2 separate regions of the Homo sapiens genome follow, and region 2 is linked to region 1. The links come from fine-mapping of genetic effects on gene expression. A gene starts in region 1. The other region holds a variant in brackets. All regions are shown on one strand. Distances are from middle to middle. Region 1 holds the start of CCR1 (C-C motif chemokine receptor 1). Region 2 has its middle 80 kb from the start of CCR1.

What was found.
Region 2: its variant is fine-mapped to the expression of CCR1 in whole blood (INTERVAL, PIP above 0.99).

What each region holds. Positions count from the first base shown.
Region 1 is chr3:46,203,864-46,211,863 of GRCh38, forward strand. CCR1 (C-C motif chemokine receptor 1) reads right to left here and starts at 4,450. Exons shown (of 2, transcript NM_001295.3): 1 at 4,419-4,450; 2 at 1-461. The coding sequence starts at 450. It also overlaps a transcript of CCR3 not described here.
Region 2 is chr3:46,123,363-46,132,754 of GRCh38, forward strand. No RefSeq gene overlaps it. Among named protein-coding and RNA genes, the nearest start is that of CCR1, 80 kb to the right of the region's middle. The variant C/T (reference allele first, on the strand shown) is at 5,542.

The DNA.
Region 1 (8,000 bases):
ACCAAAAGTGACGGTCCGTGCCCGCAAGGCAAACACGGCGTGGACGATGGCCAGGTACCTGTCAATCGTCAGCAGGATGATGAAAAAGATCTCGCTGTACAAGCCTGTGTAATAAAACCCAGAGAGGATCTTACACATGGCATCACCAAAAACCCAGTCATCCTTCAACTTGTAGTCGATCCAGAAGGGAAGCGTGAACAGGAAGAGCAGGTCAGAAATGGCCAGGTTCAGGAGGTAGATGCTGGTCATGTTTTTTAGCCTCTTGTATTGCACAAGGACCAGGACCACCAGGATGTTTCCAACCAGGCCAATGACAAATACCAAGGAGTACAGAGGGGGCAGCAGTTGGGCCCCAAAGGCCCTCTCGTTCACCTTCTGGCACGGAGTTGCATCCCCATAGTCAAACTCTGTGGTCGTGTCATAGTCCTCTGTGGTGTTTGGAGTTTCCATCCCGGCTTCTCCTACAGGTTAAAAAAAAAAAAAAGATTTGTCTTTACTCTGCTACTAAAGGCAGTGGGCACTGGACAGTAAAGACAAGGGAGAGGTAACATTTTTTCAGCCACTCCATAAATGTTTATTGAGTGCCTTCTGTGTACCATGCCCTGGGGACAAAATGGAGTGTTAGAGAGACCCAGATCCTCTCTGCCTTCTAGGAATCTTAGTCTAACAGGGAGTGGAAGCAATAAGTAAATGAGTGCACAAATCATTAATTCAATCATTTCAGCAAAGAGTTTTGTAAGGGATAAGTTCAATGGGTGGAAAGCCAGAGGGAGACCTTACCATACTATTCATAACCAACACTTCCTAAGCACCCCCATGGCCTAGGCACTGGACTTAGGGTTAAAGAGCCCTGGAGGGGTCCCATTGTTGTTCTTATTTAAGAGGTGATGAAACAGAGGTTCAGAGTGGTTAGGAAACATGTTCAAGGACACACCTCTTGTGAGAACAGACCTGGAGCTCCAACCCAGCTGTGCATCATTCTCATGCCCGGCCCTGACACCACTACGCTTTCCTGCTGCTGTCCCCGAGCAGTAGCTTTGCACTGTGGAGCCCACAGGAGGACTCTGAGAAGGAAAATGGTCCTGGCTCAGAGAAAGATACAAACAGATATTCATGGCTTTTGGTCTAAGAAGATTCTCAGCCGAGAGTGACCTAGTACCCTTGGGGCACTTGGAAATGTGTGGGCATTTGTTGTTGTTGTCACCAAAACTGGGGGATGCTACCGTCATTTGGTAGGCAGGGCCAAGGATGTCCTACAGTGCAGAGATCATTCTACCCCAAACACCAGTGGTGTTGCCATAGTGAAATCCTAGTAGGTCAACCCCATTATTTTGGAGATGAGGACACTGAGGGCACCAGAGTGGGCTGAGCCTGACCCACATTGCACAGTCCTTAGGTGGCACAGGTAGATCTAAGGTCACTTTGCAGACCTCCTGAAGGAGAGGAAAGTGCAGGCAGAGAAGGGGGAGGTAACCTGGTCAGAAAAAGAGAAAACTGGGCATCAGGGGAGGAAGAGTTCAGAATGGTCTGGAGCTATGAGGTGATGTTACACAGTGACTAGCTGAATTCTGCTGAGATAAGCTCTTAGATATTTTTACCCACGGATGCCTTAAAGCAAACAAAAATGAAACAAAAAAGAATCACTCTGTAGGTTGCCTTTGTAGGACTTCTCCCAGTCCCTGCTTTTTTGGCACTTGAATCCTTTCCAGTTGCTTATTAAAGATGCCTCCCCAAATGGAGCATTGGCTTTGGTGTAACCTACGAGCTTTGTGACTTTGGATAAATTATTTTACCTCTCTGAGCTTCATTCCTCATCTGTAATGTGGGAAAGCAACTCTTATCTTGCAAGGCTACTGTGAGGTAATGTATGAGAAAAGTGCTACCATCACCCTCCCACCACCACCACCTGGCAACAGCCAGGCCCCTTATTGAGGGCCTGGCAAGAGCCAGGCCAGGGCACTTTTCTTGGGGACCTTCCCTGAGAGAACTCCTTCACTGCAGGAGCCCTTCCCTGAGGCCTGACACCACCAGCACATCCCAGGCACCAATGTCCAGGATGTCCCTGGCTGGCTGGTATACCCTGTCTCCCACCCCCCTGCCAAATTTCTTTGTAGTTAATCTAGAAAGTGATTTTTCTTGATAACGGTGGACAATGATGGTCCCTTCCATGTGAATGACATTTGAAATTGTCAATCTATTGCCGCCAATCTAAATTGATTTGACCCAAATGCCAATCAGTAAAGTAGGTGGCACCTACTTTATAATTTCTATCTTAAACCTGGGTCTCTGGTGTTCTTCCTTCTACTCTCCTTAAGGAATGTTTCCTGCTTACACAATTCACATTTTTTTCAATAGCCATTGTAAAGGAAATTAAGGCACATGGAGGGTATAGGGCACCCTGGCTGGAAAGGGAGATACTCTATTAGGGTGAGAAGTGAGGAGCTTTAATTTTTTATCAAACCCATCCCCTGGCCCACTCCTCCATCTCCAGAGAGATCCAATCAGCCCTCTTTCTGGAGAGAGTCAGGCTAACGGTCACTAACAAAGCTGTGTTGGCAGTTTCTAATTTCTGCAGCCACAGCCATTGCTGATGAGGGCAGACAGTTCGGTTTGATAGTCAGCACTTTTCGGTGGGCTGGCAGGTTAACAGTGGAAGTATGCAAATAGCTTGGAAAGCACAAAGAGCAGCTAGTGCAAGCCTGATCCCATGAGTCCAGTTTCTGGGAAGGTTTGGCAAAGGCAAAGGCAAGTTGAGTCAACATTGTCAGGTGGCATTTTAAACCGAGTCACCTCCATACACCCCCTACCTCCAACCCATTTGTTATTTCCCCAACTTGTTAAGCCCCAGGCAACCACTCCAAGGCATGCTGTTCCTAAAGGGAGGTGATCTGGGGTGGGGCCCGAGAAGAGAAACCAAAGGACCATGTTGTCATCTAATCTGCCAGCCCTGCTGTAGTCTACTGCAGAAGTCTGCCTCAAGGCCACTGCACAGTGGTCAGCTATAGCCCTGGATCCTGGACCCTCCACTGCTAGTGTCCTCCAGCCTGGGAGTTGGTGAAGTCTCTGAGCAGAGATAGAGCAGTCTGTGATGGTGAAAGACACCCAGGCCTATGGTGCGCTGGCTGGCTTATACTGGTTTATAAATGCCAATTGCGTGCATCTCTTCCCCACTCCACATTCAGCATGTTGGTAGCTTGAAACTGACCACAGTGGGGGCATTTATACCATGAAAATCAACAAATGTTATAAAGCAGGGATCTTTTCTTCAGAAGAGTCAGTTGTTGAACATTTACCAGCACATCACTGCCCAGGCCCCACATTCTGAACAGTCCAGCACTGTCCCACTGCTCGGTGCGGGAACTAAAGGATCAGTGAGTGGCACATAGCCTGGTGCCAGGTTGTGCAAACTTTTGGGAGTTTCCATCTCTTCTTTGAAATCTGGGACCCACCAAGACCACCTATGAAGTAGATACCTATACGGAGCCACCATGCCCCTCTATCTTCAGAACAAAATCCTGACCTGTGTCTTTGTTAGTAGAGCAGAACAGATGCCCCCCAAGATCACCTGGCCAGCTCCTTGCCTTTGGGTGAGTGAAAGCCTACCTCTTCCAAAGATAGCAGTGCCAATTTTGAGGATCCTTGGTTCTAGTCTTCTTAAGAGATAGGTTCAGTATCAAATCATCCTTGCATCTGCCAAGATTTTTCTAGCTAATATTTCCCTCTTGCTATAATTTCTTCATACACCATGTTTGGTTTTCCTTTACATGGGGGAATTTGGCAAGCAATTTTTTTTTTTTTTTCAGACAGACTCTTGCTCTGTCGCCAGGCTGGAGTGTAGTGGTGCAATCTCAGCTCACTGCAACCTCCACCTCCCGGATTCGAGTGATTCTCCTGCCTCAGCCTCTTGAGTAGCTGGGACTACAGGCATGCGCCACCATGCCCGGCTAATTTTTATTTTTAGTAGAGACAGGGTTTCACCATATGGCCAGGATTGTCTCCATCTCTTGACCTCATGATCCACCTGCCTCGGTCTCCCAAAGTGCTGGGATTACAGCCGTGAGCCACTGCGCCCCGCCAAGTAATTTCTTATTGAATAGGTTTCCACAGAAAACACCTTTTGTCCCTTAGTACTGACTGACTTTCTTAATCAGTAACCAAAAGCCAATCCTTCAAGTAAGCTTCCTTTTTAGCAAAAAAGCCTATATTTCATCTGAGCACCCAGCTTTATAAATCCACCATTCTCAGTATTGCTACAGTATTAATTGCCTTGGAGATGCATCCATGGGCTACTTAGACATTTGCCCAGCCTACTCAAAGAATTCCCCCTACCTTTGAGGAGCCCCTAGCTGCATGCATGTCTTTGAACAACACTGCCCTCCACAGTAACAGATAAGACAGAAAAGACAAGTGACACTTACTCTGGTTCCAAGGGACTTTGTCCGTGAAGTCTTTGTTTCTGGGGCTTTCTGGGTTTTTATGAATTCAAGTTTCAAGATCCTGACCAAGTAGGAAGTACTCAGCTTCCTGTGTGATGATGGAGAATTGGCTCCAGTTTCACAGTCTTTCAAAATGACAAGAAAGGGACAAAGTTCTTCTTTTTGTGTGGTTTGGTGCTCATGAATGGCCACAACGCCCACCAGTGGCCACTTCCTGGAAGCCAAGTTAACTGCGAGGATTTTCTCTGCTCACTCTGAGCCTCTTGAGTCTTGGCCCTGGGAGCTCAGCCTTAAGGGAATTGGGGGCAGGTGAAGCTGAGTTGGGTGAGGTGGGTGGCAGTGAGATGTTCCCAGAATGTTTGGAGCAATTGAAGTGTGGGATGTGTGTATGTGGGATGGGGGCAGGGCATAGAGCTCTTGTGGTCAGCGGCAGACTTCTTTTTTTTCTTCTTCTTAAAGATTGTGAATGGAAGGATTTAAACTGGAACCCTGAGTCCTGTTCCTCAAAACTAACTGACATGGGTGCTCACAGAGGCAGCAGCTTCTCTTTGGCACCCTATGCCCCTCGGCTTCTGGGAGCTCATTGTCCCTCTGCTCTCTGCTCCCCAAGTCCCTCCCCACCAAACCTCAGAGAGTGGCTTTGCCCCAGGAACCTCCAGCATGAAGGGAATATAGGTCTGTTGGTTACATTTTGACCTTCCCTTTCTGATGCCCCATTCCTGTTTTACGTGATGGTCAAACATGGGCCAAGTTCAAATCCCAGCTCTCCACCTGTGACATGGGCAGATCACTCACCTTTCTAAGTCTTGGTTCCTACTCTGCTAAATGGGAGTATTGAATGCTTACCTCAGAGGAGAAGCACGAAGTCAACTTGTACATGAAAAATGTCAGAGTGCCTGGCACAGTGAAAAATGTCTGACAAATGATGAGTACTGTGACTCTCCTCACAACTGCCAACACCTACTCTGCCTCTGCCCTTGTGTCTTCTATAAAGTGGGGACACCCCTAACCTTCCTCACGGCATTGCTACAAAGCACTGTTTCAGAAATCATCAGTGTGAATGTGCTTTGAAAAGATCACTTGTCTCTTCATGGTTCAGTTTTCTTATCTGTAAAATGAAGAATTCAGACAAGATGGCCTAAGCTTGACATCTGATCATCACTCAGCTTCACCCCAAAGAAATAAATGGGGGTCTGCATGTGCCTGGCTATTTGCAGTACTTTGCTGGTGGATCAGTTTCCAAAGAGAACAGAGGCTTGTGAGGCCTGCCTTTTCCTTGATCCTGTCTAAAGTAAGGGACATGGTCAGTACCTCATCCTTGACCAGGCTTCCAGCTCTGCTCTAGGTTTCATTCCACAGAGGGGATGTACCAGGCAAATCTGCTTGTTCATTGAACAAATATTTATTCAGTACTCACAATGTGCCGGACATTGTGTTAGGTGCTTGGGATATAGTGGTGAAGAAAGAGGCTGGATCCATTCTTTGAGAGCTTATAGCTTAGGAAGGATCACAAACAATTAACCAAGTTACCACAATGAGGAACAGCTTTTGTAGTGGCCTGGGAAATACCCTGGGCTAAGGAAGGGTGCATCGAGGGTGGGAAGGGGTGAGGAAGTCCTTTAGAGCAGTGGTTCTCAAAGTGAGGTCCCTGGACCAGCAGCATTCACATTCCCTGGGACATTGCTAGCCATGCAAGTTCTGGGGTTACATGCCAGATATACTGACTCAGAAATCCTGGGGATGCGGCCAAGCAATCCAGGTTTTGACAAAGACTGGCATGATTCTGATGCATGCTTAAATTTGGGGGGCATGGATCTAGATTTTCTCAATGCTTTTGGCTCAGAGTCCCATGTGATCTTTCTTCAGAAGAGTTAGGCTGGACCAGCTATGAGCTAGGAAGCCTTCTTTCTCTCTTTAGCTCAAGGCCTAAACAAGAGGCTGCTCAGTTGCCTGCTCTGTCTCCCCTCCCACACCCACACTCAGGTCTCCTATGGCCTTGCAAACCCCTTAGTGCACACACCCCTCTCACCACAGCAGATGTGTACAATGGGGGCAGCACAGAGAGACAAGAGAGAAACCAGCAAAGAGGGATGACCTTGCTCCATTCATTTCTCTTAAAAGCCCTTTGACTCCTCTCCTTAAAAGCTGTAGTGTTCTCTCAAGGTTGCCGTATTGTCCTTGATCCACATCAATGTTCCTCTTCCTTGGAGAGAAGGGGGAGATGTGGGCAGCTTCCTTTGCCCCAGAGAGGTTGCAGTGGAAGCCCAGCACTAAGCCAAACCCTGTCCTGAGACAGCCTTCCACCCCAGCCTTGGCACCAATGTTCAGGGAAGAGATGCAGGGGACCCTGCCAGTGGTGGATGTGGATGACTCTGTCTTTAACACCTGCAGAGCTCATGGACCCTGGCCGTCATCAGGTTCAACCTCATATTCAACTGCTGGGCCTTGTCTTCTGGCCACACACTCTCTCCAAATCAGCGATGGTGGGGAACTGAGGAGCCAGAGGCCATTGTGGAAGAACTCCAAGAAAACAATCTCCAGGTTATCACATCTAAAGCCTGAGCAAGATTTGAGGCTGGGAAGAGGTGGATCCCAGAATTGGAAGAAGGTAGGTGAAACCAGTGTTGCCTCCGCTATGTTAGAGTCACATGGAAGCTTGAAGGACAATTGACTCCTAGGCCCACCCCCAGATATTCTGATGTACTTGGTCTAGGGTGCAGCCTGGGCATTGGAATTTTAATATGTTAAAAAATCTGAGAACTAGAATCCCTGGCCTAAAGCAATGGTTCTCGAATTTGAATATCCATCAGAATCTACAGAGGGCTTGTTAAAACAGATTTCTGGACTTATCTCCAGAGATTAAGTTCAGTAGGTCTGGAATGGGGCCTGAGAATTTACTTTTTTTTTTTTTTTTTTTTAGACAAGGTCTTGCTCTGTCGCCCAGGCTGGGGTGCAGTAGCATGATCATGGCTCACTGCAGCCTCAACCTTCTGGGCTCAAGTGATCCTCCCACTTCAGTCTCCTAAGTAGCTGGAACCACAGGTGCATGGCACCACACCTGGCTAATTTGAAAAAATATGTATATATATATATATATATTTTTTGTAGAAATGGGTGTGTTATCATGTTGCCTAGGTTGGTCTCAAACTCATGGGCTCTAGTGACCCTCTTGCCCCAGCCTCCCAAAGTGCTGGGATTACAGGTGTGACCTGTGATCCCACCATGCCTGACCTAGATTTGCATTTCTAATAAGTTTCGAGAACCACTGGTCTACAGGAATTCTCTGAGATGTAATTTGTTTATATTTGTAAGTACACAAAATATAAGGTGAAGAGCTAAGTTTGCCTACCCCTGGCGCCTTATTTTCCCCATTTCTCTTCCCAAAAGGAACAACAGTATCAGATTCTCATGTCACTTTGAACATAGAACACACGCACACACACACTTTTTTTTACACTGGTGAGTGAATACAATACACGTTGTCTTCCATTGCTTTTGTCACTGAACCTCATACCCAGAAGATTCTTCTCCACCAGCAAGCACCTGGGAATAAGCATGTAGGCA
Region 2 (9,392 bases), 80 kb before region 1:
CATTGAATTGCTTTTACGCACCTGTAAAAGATAAGTTGGCTATATGAGGGGGCTTCAAAAAATTCATAGAAAAATGAAATTAAAAGATAAGAAATTTACTAACTAAAGAAAAATGGGTGCCCTTTAAAGATTTCTTAAGACTAAAAAACAAAAAGAAGTCAGAAGGAGTCAAATCAGGACCGTAAGGTGGATGCCCAGTGATTTCCCATCGAAACTCTTGCAAAATTGCCCACATTTGATGGGGGGAATGTGCAGGAGCAATCTTGTGGTGAAGGCCTCTCTGGTGAAGCTTTTCTGAGTATTTTTCTGCTAAAGCTTTTGTTAGAGTAGGTAGCTACCCAGGCATGAGCAGAGCAGGGGAAGGCTCCCCCACACCAGGAATGTCAGGTGACCATAATTGCCAGGGAAAAGCAGTTTCCCAATAGCTAAAACACCTGGAACTGGTGATCAGCCGCTTCCCATTAACATCTCAAAAATTGGGCAAGCATTAAGAGGCATAATTGTGGAGTATGACCTTTGGTAGGTATTCCACTGGAAAAGGGAAGAATGCCTCAGGTAAGCATGCATACAATTCTAGTAAACACACTGCATATGCTCGCCTCCAGGGTGTTAGGCCACCTTGCATGCCAGCGGGCCACCCTCAGGGAAGAATCATGGGAAAAGGGATGCAAGACCCCAGAGGTATGCCAGCATATAAAATCCCAAGTCAAAAGATCAAAGCCCACATTTAACCTCCAAAATGGCCACTTGGCCCTCTTCCAAGTGTACTTTACTTTCCTTTCATTTCTGCTCTACAGCTTTTTAATAAACGTTCACTCCTGCTCTAAAACTTGCCGCAGTCTCTTTTTTCTGCCTTATGCCCCTTAGTCAAATTCTTTCTTTTGAGAAGGCAAGAACTGAGGTTGCTGCAAACCCCTATGAATTCGCCACAAGTGACTTGGATAACTTCAACTGCTAATACTTTGGCTGACTTTCTCAAAAACACTTTCATAATAAGCAGATGTTATCACTCTTTGGCCCTCTAGAACGTCAGCAAGAAAAATGCCTTGAGCATCCCAAAAAGCTGTTGCCATGACCTTTGCTCTCCACTTTTGCTGTGACTGGACCACTTCCATCTCTTGGTAGCCATTGCTTTGACTGTACTTTGTCTTCAGTAATGTAGTGGTAAAGCCATGTTCCATCTCCTCTTACACAGTTCTTCAAAGAAATGCTTCAGGATCTTGATCCCCCTTGTTTAAAGCTTTGCTCTTGTCTGCAGCTAATCTGGCTGCAATGGTTTTGGCACCCATTGAGCGGAAAATTTGCTCAACTTTAATTTTTCAGTCAGAATTGTGCAAGCTTCTAGGAGGAGATGGTGACAGATTACAGGAAGGTGGCGGGGGGCAGTGAGTGGGGTTGGTTTGGGGATAAAATCCATGGTGAACAAAAGTTGTCTTGTTGTGCAGATATAACCTCTCAGGTAGCAGCTCTCGGGTAGCCTGAGGCAAAACCTCTCTAGGTGATGTGTTGACCTTTGATTTCTTTTCCAGAGAGAAAATCTTTCCTAGATCTGTTTTTAGGCAAATATGGGGACCTCAGAGAACCTCTGCTTGCATCCACTGTTTCCTGCTGTTTATCAATCAGCATACCAAAGTGTCATACTTTGGGGAATTGTTTCCTGAGCTGCAACAATTGTCATATTTGGGAATGCGTCACAGAATTAGAAATGATCAGACAGTTTTAAGAACTAAGACTGATTTTTATGGAGCCAATGTTTACAAAGTCCTATTGGGCAAACTGGTCTGGTACCTGATTTATAGGTTTCCAGTCTCACAGATGAGAAACAAAGGTCACTTCCTGGCCCAGGAAATTTTGGGAACCTCTAGAAGAGAGGAATTCATCCAAATCTCTAGGAACTGTAGGTGGACAGTTCTTGGCTTGGCTTCCTAGCCTTGAGAAAGTGCTTCCTCAGCCTCCCAAAGTGCTGGGATTATAGGCGTGAGCCCCTGCACCCAGCTTTTCCTGAGCCTTTTGTTTCTTTGCTGCAGCTTTCCATTTTTTTCTTCTTTTCCAGGGTGCTTGTAATTGCTCATTGAAGCATTTTTATGATAATTGCTTAAAATCATTGTCAGATAATTCTAATATCTCTTGGTGTGGCATCTATTGATTTCCATTCCCCCTTTTTTCATTTAGTTTGAGATCTTCCTGGTCCTTAGTAAGACGAATGATTTTCAATTAAATCTTAGAAATTTTGATAGCTATAAATGCTTGCATTGGAAGAAATGAGAGATCTCAAATTAATAACCTAACTTTATACCTTAAAGAACTAGATAAAGAAGATCAAACTAAGCACAAAGCTAGAAGAAAGGAGGAAATCATAAATGTTAGAGCAGAGATAAATAAAAAAGAGAATGGAAAAAAATAGAGAAAATTAATAAAACCAAGATTTGGTTTTTCAGAAAGATCAACGACAATCTTTGCTAGATTGGCAAAGATAAAAAAGAAAGAAGACTCTCAAATAACTAATATCAGAAATGAAAATGGAGACATTACTACTGATTTTAACAGAAATAAAAGAGATCATAAGAAAGTACTATGAACAATTATATGCCAACAAATTGTATAACCTAGATGACATGGACAAATTCCTAGGAACAGTTTCCATCAAACTGAATTGTGGAGAAATAGAAGATCTGAATAAACCTATAATGAGTAAGGAGATTAATTCAATAATCGAAAACCTCCTAACGAAGACAAGCCCCAGACAGTTGGCTTAACTGGTGAGTTCTAATGACATTTAAAGAATTAATAGCCATCCTTCTCAAACTCTTCCAAAAAGTTGAAGAGGAAGGAACAGTTCTTAACTCATATTTGTGAAGCCAGATAAACATATGAAAAGAAAACTACAGACTGATATCCTTTATGACTATTGATGCAAAACTCAACAAAACACAACAAAATTCAGCAGCAAATTAAAAGGGTTATACACCATGACCAAGAAGGATTTATCCTTGAATGTAAGGGTGGCTCAACACACAAAAATAAATCAAGGTAATACATGACATTAATAGAATGAGGAAAAAAAAATGAATGATCCTCTCAATTATTCAACATCTGACAAAATTCAACACCCTTTCATAATAAAAGACACTCAACAAAATAGGAATAGAAGGAAAATACCTTAGTATAATAAAGGTCATATGTGAAAGAAAACCCACAGCTTATATAATACTCAATGGTGAAAGAATGAAATCTTTTTCTCTAAGATCAGGAATGAGACAGGGGTGCCTGCTCTCACCACTTCTATTCAATATAACATTGGAAGTCTTAGCCAGAGCAACTGGAATGAAAAAGAAATAAAAGGCAACCAAATCAGAAAGGAAGATGTAAAATTATCTCTGTTCACAGATGACATGATCATATATGCAGAAAATCCTAAAGATTCCACCAAAAGCACCTGTTAGAACTAATACATAAATTCAGCAAAGTTGCAGGATACAAAACCAATACCCCAGAATTCGTTGAATTTCTATGCACTAACAATGAACAACCTGAGAAGGAAATTAAGAACACAGTTCCATCTACAATAGCATCAAAAAGGCTGAAATACTTAGAAATAAACTTAACCAAGGAGGTAAAAGACTTGTATATTGCAGATCACAAATATTGCTGAAAGAAATTAAAGAAGTCACAAATAAATTGAAAGACATCCTGTGTTTACAGATTGGAAGACTTAATATTGTTAACTATTAGTATTACAAAACAATCTACAGAGTCAATGCAATTTCTATCAAAATCCCAATGACTATTTTGTGGAAATAGAAAAGTTCATCCTAAAATTCATATGGACTCTCAAGGAAACCCAAATAGCCCAAATAGAAATAAAAACAAGGTTGGAAGTCTCACGCTTCCTAATTGCAAAACTTACTACAAAGATATAGTAATCAAAACAGAATGGTAATAGCATAAACACAGACATGTGGACAAATGCAATAGAATAGAGGGCCCACGATTAAACTCTCATAATTTTTGACAAGAGTGCCAAGGCCATTTGTTATAGACTAAATTATATTCCCTCAAAATTCATATGTTGAAATTCCAACCCCTGTTATCTTAGAATGTAACTATATTTGGAGAGAAAGTCTAAGAGTTGGTTAGGTTAAAATGAGGCTGTTAGGACTGAGTGTTAATCTAATGTGACTGGTGCCCTTATAAAAGAGAGGAACAGACACCTGGAGCATGTGTGTACAGAGGAATGACCAGGGGGAAAGGAAACAAGACATCAGCCATCTGCAAGCCAAGGAGAGAGGCCTCAGAGGAAACCAGGACCTTGATCCTTGATTTTCAGCCTGCAGAACTGTGAGGAAATACATTTCTGTTGTTTGAGTCACCAGCCTGTGGTATTTTGTTAGAACAGCTCTAGGCAACTAGTATACTGTTCAGTGGGGGGAAAGAATAGTCTTTTCAACAAATGGTCTTGGGAAAACTAGATATTATCCACATGCAGAGGAATAATGAAGTGGGGCCCCTGTGTTACACCATATACAAAAATTAACTCGCAGTGGATCAAAAACCTAAATGTAAGAGCTGATCTATAAAACTATTTGAAGAAAACAACCAGCCGGGCACGGTGGCTCACACCTGTAATCCCAGCACTTTGGGAGGCAGAGGCGGGAGGATCATGAGGTCAGGAGATTGAGACCATCCTGGATAACACGGTGAAACCCCGTCTCTACTAAAAAAAATACAAAAAGTTAGCTGGGGGTGGTGGCGTGTGCCTGTAGTCCCAGCTACTTGGGACGCTGTGGCAAGAGAATGGCATGAACCTAGGAGGCAGAGCTTGCAGTGAGGGGAGATCACACCACTGCACTCCAGCCTAGACAACAGAGTGAGACTCCATCTCAAAAACAAAAACAAAAACAAACAAACAAAAAACAACCAAATAACCTGATTCAAAATTGGGCAAAGGACTTAAATCGATATTTCTCCAAAGAAGAGATACAAATGACCAGTAAGCCCATGAAGAGATGTTCAACATTCCTAATCATTAGGGAAATGAAAATCAAAACCACAAGAAAATACCACTTCACACCCAATAGTATGGCTTTTAGCAAAAAAGAAATACACACACACACACACACACACACACGCACATACACACACCAGAAAATAAGTGTTAGAGAGTATGTGAAGAATCTGGAACCCTTGCGCACTGTTGGTGGGATTGTAAAATGGTGCAGAGGCTATGGAAAGCAGTATGACAGTTCCTCGAAAAATTAAAAATAGAATTTTCATGTGATCCAGCAATTCCAATTCCGGATATACACCCAAAAGATTTGAAAGGAAGGACTCAAACAGATATTTGTACTCCCAAGTTTATAGTGCATTATTTGCAATAGCCAAAAGGTGAAAACAACCCAAATATCTATAGACAGCTGAATGGATAAACGAAATGTGGTATATAGGTACAATGGAATATTATTCAGCCTTAAGGAAATTCTGACACTTACTTCAACATGGATGAACCTTGAAGACATTACACTAAGTGAAATAAGCCAGTCA[C/T]AAAAAGAGAAATACTGTATGTTTTCACTTACATAAGATAACAAGAATAGTCAAATTTACAGAAGCAGAAAGCAGAATAGGGGTTGCCAGGGGCTGGAGGGAGGGAGGAGTTAGTGCTTAATGGGTACAGAGTTTCAGTTTGGGAAGATGAAAAAGTTCTGGAGATGGAAGGTAGTGATGGTTGTGTGATATGAGAGTACTTAGTGCCTCTGAACTGTACCCTTAAAATGGTTTAAAATGGTACATTTGATTATATATATATATATATATATATATATTACCACATTAAAAAACCTGGAAATTTGGGGCATTATATATTATGAGACTTTGGAACTTTTTTAAACCTGCTGGCTTTGGAGGGGAAGGGAGCTGGCTTTGGAGGGGAAGGGAGGGTGCTGCCGGGTTTGTACAAGGTAGAAGTTCTGTTCATGGCCCAAAATGGCAGAGCCAGTACTTGACACCATGGCTTCTAATGATAGATCTAGCTCTCTCGGATACCGAGGGCCAGCTGACGTTAGACATCATGGATTTGTGTTTTCCCTACACCTGGATGAATTTCTCTAGCAGGTTGGGCACAAAACTAGAGAAATGGGATTGCGAGACAGGGTCAAGGTTGGGTTCTTCCAGGCAGGCATCTCAGAAGAGCATACCTGGAGTATGTTCAGGGAGTGTCCAGGGGTAATGAGGCCATACCCACCTCACGTGTGGTCAATGGAGTGTACTGGTAAGGACTATGTGACTTAATCAAGAATTAAGTGAAGACAGCAAGGGGATGATAATATCCAGGGGAAATGGTGGGTCGAAGTTTCTAGGGAGTGCTTGATGGGGTGGAAACACAGGTGGGGGTGATGGTAAGGAGGATGTGCAAGAATAGGCACTATAGGCAGTTGTGGTTAGAGAAGGAGATGCTAAAGATTTCTTGATAGGGCAGATCCTGGAAGTGACAAGATTTGTGGTGTGGGTAGCTGAAAGGTGGGGGAGGCAAAGGATTTGAGGTCAAGAAATGCAAGGGCATAAAGGTAAAATCTTTCCCAAGATTACACCAGTAGTCCATGGGAGAGGTGGGACTCAAACCAGACTCAGAATCCAGAGAGGAGCTGGAGAACACGGGGCATGACCAAGGGGGTGAGGAGTGGTGGGGATGATGAGTGAGAAGGCTGGCCCAGGCAGCTCTCATGATGCTCAAAAGAGATGGGTGTTTGCATGCACAGCTTAGAAGGGAACACAGGGTGAAAGAAGGATGCTGGCCTTACAGCAACAATGTTCACTTGCAGAGTTTTTTGGTACCTCTGTGCACTGTGCCTGGTGCTAGGGACATTGAAATAAAAGATATAGGTGCTGCCCACAGGAAACACACAGTCACTGGGAGAGGCGGGCACATAAGCCCATCTGCAAAACAGAATGATACTCTGATAACCGCTGTTGGACCAAGCAGTGAGGGAGTGGCCCTGGCTGGAGTGGTGAGGTCAGGCACAGGAGGGAGGTGATGCTTAGGCACTTTGTGCGAACTTCACTAGTTGGGCCTGATGGAGCAGACGCAAGAGTGGGGTGGAAGGATACAACTGAGAAAGAGTCTGGTGTATTCAGGAGCCTCTGCGTGGCTTGGCGTGGGGAGCACCAGGACCATATGTCAGGGGATGAGGGTAGGCAGGGCCCTCACTAGGTCGTGTCTGCAGTTTGGCCTGAGTGTCATAGGAGGGGAGTGACAGGGAACAATTTGCATTTTAGAAAACGTGAAAGGGCAGATGAAAAAAATGAGCACAATGACTGCAGTATAAAATGTATTACTAGGCCGGCACAAGTAAAAATGAACAGGTTCTTAGAGGAGGATTATGTTCTCATTCCTTTTCAGGAAGTTTCCTTTATCATGACATTGTTTTTACACCAAAATGTGATTACTGTAAAAAGGGAACTGTGGTTAGTGTGAAAAGGGAACAAGCATGGAGTTACCAGAATCACATTTTCCTGACTGGAAAGAAGTCACAAGAAAACAACAGAGAACACTCACTCCATGTTCAGCATGAAGGAGAACTGCATGATCCAGGGAGGTTTAGGGGACCAAGAAGGTGGATAGGCTCTAACTGGGGCAGGCAGCAGGTGCGGCTGCAGAAAAGCGAAGGACTCCGAGCCCCGTGGTGCCTGCCTAAGAGTGAGCCAAACTCAGAAAGCCTGAGGCCCTTCTAGATGAAAGGTGACTGATGCAAAGCTTGATCCCAGATTGGATCTGGGTTATGGGAAGACAGCTCACCAGGGACTATTTAAGGGCAATTGGCGAAATGTAGACATGGAAGATGGACCAGACAACAGCATGAGATGAATGTTAAATTTCCTGATTTTGATCCTTGTTCTGTGGCTATGTAAGAGAATGTCCTTACTTTTAGAAAATACACATGGGGCATTTTTGGGAAGTTTTTAAGGGCATGGTGTCTGTAACTTACTCTCAAGCAGTTCAGGAAAATAATATATAAATTAGATATGAAGAGAAGTGAGGGGAGGAGAATAACACAAATGGGGGCAAAATATTAACATTGGTGCATCTGGATAAGATGATCTTTGGACAGAGTTCTTTGAACTATTCTTGAAACATCTGCATAAAATTTGAAGTTATATCAAATTTGAAACTTACAAAGAAAAGGCTTAGGGTTGGATTCTGCTTGGGCTGGAACATAAACTCAAGGTGAGAATATAGCCAACTTTGTGAATAGAGCAACTGAACCAATACTGGGTTTTTTGTTTTCTTTAAAAATCATTCTCTGTGGAAGATCAACTTAAATCTATTCTGCCAATATTGATAATTACTGACTAGCATGTGGTTTTATTTGCACTATCATTTTAATGGTGTTTACTTTATATATTAATTTTTGGCCTAATTAATTGGAGGCTTCCAGAAGGACGATCCCCTGGAACAATTTTCCTTGTGTTTCCCCCTTTTTGTTCTGCAAGCGTATAGCGTATGGCAGCAAGGAGGATCTCATTGCTCTCAGGGAGGGTGCAGGACACAAGGGCAGTGTGTGGCCTGATGAAAGCTGCTTGTCCTGGGAGCCCTCAGCACACAGAACTTTAGTAGAAGGGAAACCCTTTCACATCAGGAGCCAGAAGCCTTGTTAGGGGAGGGACTGCAGATATTGAGTCGAGCAAATCTGGCAGGGTGGCTTACGGTGAGAGGAAAGGACTAGTAGGCCAAGGGCAAAGGTAAATTCACCAGGGCAAAGGCAGTCTGAGCTAAATGCAAGAGCCTGGGCTTTGCTGTGTGTATGCAGGGAGATTATGGAATAGCACAGCCAAGACCAGCAGCCTCCTGGCCCAGCGACTATGGCATGGGGCCACGCCCTGGGAACGATGGAGCTCCAGGCTTGGAGCATGTGTGAGCTGAAGGACCTCCAGGTGGAGGCTGGTGGGTGGCACCTCGACAGTAGTCTGAAGCGAGCCAGAGCAGCGAGGGCCTTGCCTCATCAGCAAGCAATTGTCCCTGGGGCTGCACCAGTCAAGGCTTCAACACTGACAATGTGATGTCTCTAGAACAGAGTAGTGGTGACCAGAATAGCCCCTTCCATTCTCTCCTAGCTTATGTTTGGAAGAAGGACAAAAGCTTTTCAAGCCCTCAGTGTTCTTCTGTTATTTGAAAAGGAGGCTTCAGGAGGGAGGCACTGGGCACCATTTTTCTGGAACTATTAACTGATGAAATTTTAAAAAAGATGTGTTTGTACCCAGTGGTAGATAATCTCCAAATGTGGTCACCATCAGGTCCGATGTCCTTTCCTGTATGTGTCAAGGGGGGGAATGTATGTCCCCTCCCCTCATGTCTGGATTTGCCCTGTGCCTGCTTTGACCAAATGTGGAAGTGATATGCT